2 separate regions of the Homo sapiens genome follow, and region 1 is linked to region 2. Evidence: fine-mapped expression QTL. A gene starts in region 2. The other region holds a variant in brackets. All regions are shown on one strand. Distances are from middle to middle. Region 1 overlaps AKR7A3 (aldo-keto reductase family 7 member A3). Region 2 holds the start of AKR7A2 (aldo-keto reductase family 7 member A2).

Evidence for each region.
Region 1: its variant is fine-mapped to the expression of AKR7A2 in lung (GTEx, PIP above 0.99). The same link has a PIP of 0.9 or more in sigmoid colon and substantia nigra.

Annotation. Positions count from the first base shown.
Region 1 is chr1:19,283,622-19,286,554 of GRCh38, reverse strand. It overlaps AKR7A3 (aldo-keto reductase family 7 member A3), which reads left to right. Exons shown (of 7, transcript NM_012067.3): 2 at 183-370; 3 at 563-667; 4 at 1,441-1,537; 5 at 1,770-1,869; 6 at 2,430-2,559. Among named protein-coding and RNA genes, the nearest start is that of AKR7A3, 3.7 kb to the left of the region's middle. RefSeq lists an enhancer at 2,053-2,928. The variant G/A (reference allele first, on the strand shown) is at 1,422.
Region 2 is chr1:19,310,923-19,313,422 of GRCh38, reverse strand. AKR7A2 (aldo-keto reductase family 7 member A2) reads left to right here and starts at 1,279. Exons shown (of 7, transcript NM_003689.4): 1 at 1,279-1,596. The coding sequence starts at 1,299. It overlaps SLC66A1 (solute carrier family 66 member 1), which reads right to left and starts at 1,097. Exons shown (of 8, transcript NM_001040125.2): 1 at 534-1,097. RefSeq lists silencers at 788-877, 958-1,597 and an enhancer at 1,189-1,688.

The DNA.
Region 1 (2,933 bases), 27 kb after region 2:
GCGGGCTCCACTATGCCCAGCTAATTTTTGTGTTTTTATTAGAGATGGGGTTTCACCATGTTGGTCCAGCTGGTCTTGAACTCCTGACCTTCTGATTTGCCTGCCTCAGTCTCCCAAAGTGCTGGGATTACAGGCATGAGCCACGGCGCCTGGCCCTGAATTTCATTTCTCTTTCCTCTCAGTGAAAATTGATACCAAGGCCATTCCACTGTTTGGGAACTCCCTGAAGCCTGACAGTCTCCGGTTCCAGCTGGAGACGTCACTGAAGCGGCTGCAGTGTCCCCGAGTGGACCTCTTCTACCTGCATATGCCAGACCACAGCACCCCGGTGGAAGAGACACTGCGTGCCTGCCACCAGCTGCACCAGGAGGTGAGGGGACCCCTGAGCTCTGGGAGGTGGTCCACTGCTGCTCTCCTTATCCTGATCCTAATGGTGAGAGCAGAGGCACCAGGGCTGTTCCAGGGTGGAGCAGGGAACAGCCCAACTCCCAGGGGCCCCACCCTGGCCTCCCTTTCCTGGTCTGGGCTGCACTATGTTCTGACTGGAGCCTCACCTGAGCAGGGCAAGTTCGTGGAGCTTGGCCTCTCCAACTATGCAGCCTGGGAAGTGGCCGAGATCTGTACCCTCTGCAAGAGCAACGGCTGGATCCTGCCCACTGTGTACCAGGTGAGAGCCAGGGCTGCAGAGGCCAAGGTCTCCAGAACTCCTGCTCATCCTGGGCTGTCTTTGCCCCTCTGACTGCCCCCTGTGCCCTCTGCATAGCAGCCACTCCCCTGCTGAAAGCCTGCAGATGGCTCCCAGGTACCCTCAGGATGCCATTCAAGCTCCTCAGGCTGGCCACTGGGCATCTGCTTCCTTCCTGCCTATCTGTGCACCTTGGACCCTTCCTTCCCTACCTTCCCCTGCACTCAGCCTGGAACAAGCCCTTCCCCCACCACCGCCCCTTCCGTGAGAGAATGGTTCAGGTCTCACATACGTGTCTCTTCCTCTGGAAGCCTTTCTAGATGGGCCCAGAAGACCCTGAGACCTCAGGTCCTTGTTTACCTCCTCATGATTCATTGCACAAATATTTGCACACCTGCTTGGTGCCAGGCACTGGTCACAGAACTTTCTAGTCTATTATGATTGCCTCATGACTTGATTATAACTGTTTATACTTGACCTTATTATAAAACCTTGAGGGAAGGGACCCTGTCCTTTTGGCTTAAGAATCTAAATCTGACAACCAGCCCATAGTTGGTGCTCATGAAAGTTGGCAGAATGAATGAATTTTCCATGGGCATAAGCTTCTTTCACCAGCACCAGTTAGAATAAGTATACGCCCAGACGGTTAAAGTCCTAGAATTGTTAAGGTCTGAAATAAGGGTTCTGGAAGGGTAATTTTGAAGTCTCTTCTTTTGACACATCCACCCTCTCCCCC[G/A]GGGCCCCTCTCCTTACAGGGCATGTACAATGCCATCACCCGGCAGGTGGAAACGGAGCTCTTCCCCTGCCTCAGGCACTTTGGACTGAGGTTCTATGCCTTCAACCCTCTGGCTGGTACGTGGAGCATTCCTGGCCCTGTCTCAGCCTATTCCCGACCCACAGATGCCCAGCCCAGGACCTGGGAAGCAAGGAGGGTTTGACAAACTTTGACCTCTGAGGTCAAAGACGTAAAGGCTGCATCTTCAGCCCTCCTGGGTCCCTGCCCCTCCCCTAGACCAGAGCCCTGAGGGATGTGGCAGCTTCTGGGGCACTCTAGGCCCCGGGGCTGATTGCTGCTTTCCCTCAGGGGGCCTGCTGACCGGCAAGTACAAGTATGAGGACAAGAATGGGAAACAGCCCGTGGGCCGCTTCTTTGGGAATACCTGGGCAGAGATGTACAGGAATCGGTAAGCTGTGGGTGCTTGGTGTGGATGGCTGGGGTGGGGTCAGCTTTATGTGGAATGAAGTCCTGGGCTGCTCCTGGGGTAAGGCCTTTCCTCGCTGCTGCACCTACTCCCCTGAATTTCTTCGGGAATTTCCAAACCCTCCATCGGTTTTCTTGTTGTCTTGGGACCTCCAGGAGGAAAGGAGACTCCCTGGACCTCGGGGTCTTGAAGTCGTTGCTCTTTCCTGAGCAATCACCTGCTAGGAAGGAAAGAAGGAGCTCTGGAGGGAGGTCCAGGAGGCCTGGGGCTGAGTCCTGACCCATCTTAGCGGCCTTTGTGTCCCTAAGGAAAATAAGAGCAGGCTGATGAGTCCTCAGGAATAAAGATTTGTTGAGGTCTCTGCTGAGGGGCCCAGCATCCTGAGTGGTTCTCTTGCCCAGCAAAGTGGGAGACCCATGGCTAGAGAGAACACCTGCCCCTCAGGGCTGCAGGGTGTGGGGTGGGACAGTGGCCCTGGTTGGCTCTTTGGTTGTGGCTCCCAATGTGGCCCTGACACCTGTGCCACCGTCCCCCCTTCCCAGCTACTGGAAGGAGCACCACTTTGAGGGCATTGCCCTGGTGGAGAAGGCCCTGCAGGCCGCGTATGGCGCCAGCGCCCCCAGCATGACCTCGGCCACCCTCCGGTGGATGTACCACCACTCACAGCTGCAGGTAACCAGTGACCCTGTGCGCTCAGCTTCTTCCCTTCCAGGGGAACCAGCAATATCTTTAGATGAAGGCTGAAACATTTGTTTATCGATTCCTCTGAAATTTCTCTTTCTTTCAACTCTCACAAACATTCTTCCCACTGGTCTTTTTCTATGTTTTTTTTTTGGGGGGACAGAGTCTCACTCTGTCACCCAGGCTGGAGTGCAGTGGCATGATCTCGGGTCACTGCAACTTCTGCCTCTTGGGCCGAAGCAACTCTCTTGTCTCAGCCTCCCCAGTAGCTGGGATTACAGGCGTGCGCCACCATGCCCAGCTAATTGTTTGTATTTGTAGTAGAGACAGGGTTTCACCATGTTGCCCAGGCTGGTCTCAAATTC
Region 2 (2,500 bases):
TAAACACACCTAGAGGTTCAGCAAATGTTGAGAGACAGTGAGAGAAAGAGAGAGGTAGAGAGAAGGACAGAGTGAAGAAGAGAGGAAACGGGTGAGAAAGGAGAAAGGGTGGAAGAGAGAGAAGAGGAAGGAAAGGAGAAAGGAAGGGGAGAAAGCTGTGAGCTCGAACAGCCCAGGGTTGAGGAGAAAAGCACTCTGGAACAGACCTGCCCGATGCCTACCAGTCTGGAACTCAAGTGATTGAGCTTCGTAGTTCTCATCTGAAAAGTAGGGGAATAATGCAATACCCACCACCTAGGCTGACTGCAGAGTTAAATGAGACAATCCAGGCCAAGCGATTACAAGGGTGCCTGGCACTGGCACTCAACACCAACAGCCCAAAATGACTATTATTTGTTCTCATTGTAGCCCCTCCAGCGTCCGGGCACACAGGCGCCTTCAGTAAGCGTTGATTAGACATGACCTGTGACCCAGGCCCGGGACCCCTCACACTTCCAGACTCAGACTCTCCATTTACACGTTTGGAAACCTACCCTAAGCACGGCGTGGGAGGAGGCAGTGTAGGCCCTCGGTCCCTGCAGACCTGGGGAGATTGTGGAGGGAGGAGCGTCCCAGCTCGGGGCTACCACCCACTCCAGGCCTCGGCGTCCTCGGCCACAGCTCCCTCCTGGTGACTCAGCCCGGCGCGGGCCGCCTGTTTGGAGGGATAATGATAGGACAGCTGCTGGGGCCAGCGCCGCGAGGGCCCCTCGCCCGGCCGGCCCGGGAAAAACGAAGCCATCAGATGCCAAGGGGCCGGTCGGCCGGGGCAGGGCAACTCCTGGCCAGGCCAGCTCGAGAGGCCGCGCTGGTCGCCTTTGAGGTGGGGGGCCACTGGCTGCGGATTCCCGAGGGCCACCCAGTCCCGGCCCGGAGCCTCGTCCCACGATATCGCGCCACAAGGAGGGCGCAGGAGCCGGGACAGTCCAGCGGCCGGAGGAGAGGGCTGGAAGGATGTGGCAGGGAAGCCCAGGAGCCCCGACCCCCAGCCGTGAAGTTTGCCACCTGCCCCCGGTCCGGCTCACCACGTCCAGATCCGCCGCCAGGGCCCAGCTTCTGGGTCAAGGCCCGCCGGGTCAGCTGACCGCGCGCCACCGCCCCCGCGGGAACCGCAGGCCCCGCCCCCACGCCGCGCGCTGGGCTGACCGGGCCTGGAGGCGCCGCTGGGGCCGCGCCTGTTGTCCCCGCCCCCAACTGCCTCCGCGCTCCTCCCCGGCATGGGCGGGGCCCCCGGCTCCCAACGCGCAGGCGCCGCTGCTATGCTGAGTGCCGCGTCTCGCGTAGTCTCCCGCGCCGCCGTCCACTGCGCGCTTCGCTCTCCGCCGCCCGAGGCCCGCGCGCTCGCCATGTCCCGGCCACCGCCACCGCGGGTCGCCTCGGTGCTGGGCACCATGGAGATGGGGCGCCGCATGGACGCGCCCGCCAGCGCCGCGGCCGTGCGCGCCTTTCTGGAGCGCGGCCACACCGAACTGGACACGGCCTTCATGTACAGCGACGGCCAGTCCGAGACCATCCTGGGCGGCCTGGGGCTCGGGCTGGGCGGTGGCGACTGCAGAGGTAACAGTAGCTGCAGATCCTCCCCATGCATCGTGTAGAGCTGAGCCTGTCCCCAGCCGTGCACCACCCCGCTCGGGCCCGGCCGCGGGCAGCACCGACGGATTCGTCCCTCGCTCCCCACCCCAGGTCCACCCCGCAGCTCTGGGAACCCCGGGACAACTAGACAGTGCTTTGCCCTGACTCCTTTCCCCCACTCTCCTTCCCTTGGGAGTTGCAGCGCGAGAGTCTCCCCCCAGCCTGGTCTGACCCATCGCTTCCCACCTCCATTGATGCCCCCGCCTCCAAACCTGCCAGGTGCCCACAACCGGTCCCCACCCAGGCTCTCCCCCTTTTCTCTACCCCTTCGTTACCATCATCACGCATGCACACCCTGGGCACCCTTTTCTCATCCTGGCCTTTTCTTAACCACTAGAATTTGACCTGTGCAGCTGGCAGTACCTCTGCCTCTCTCAGGGAGAACTGTGGCGATGCCGTAAGGCTGGCTGGGAGAGTAGGAGTGTTAGGGAGTGCGGACGGGTCAGGGTGTAGGGACTTTCTATCCACTCTATGCCAGGCTTTGACTTGGGGCCATAGGAGGGAAAGTGATTCCAGCCCTCCACAGGGAGTTCAGAGTCTAATGAGGAAGATTGAAGTAATGATTGCTGGAGAGCCCAGAAGAGAGAGTACTTTAGGGAGCTGCAGGCCGGGGAGAGGCACTAGGGAAGGCTCAGCAAATGCTGGATGGAGCTCAGCCTTAAAGGCTCAATGGTAGGTTGGAGGAGAACAAGAGAAAGGAACATTAGAGTCTGTGCAAAGACTTGGTTTGGAAATGCAATGTGCGTGATGTGTGAAAGGAAGGCCACTGGGCAGGTGGGGCTTGAGTGGAGGATGGAGGGGACTGTCCCTCGTGAGCCTGGTGCCCTTG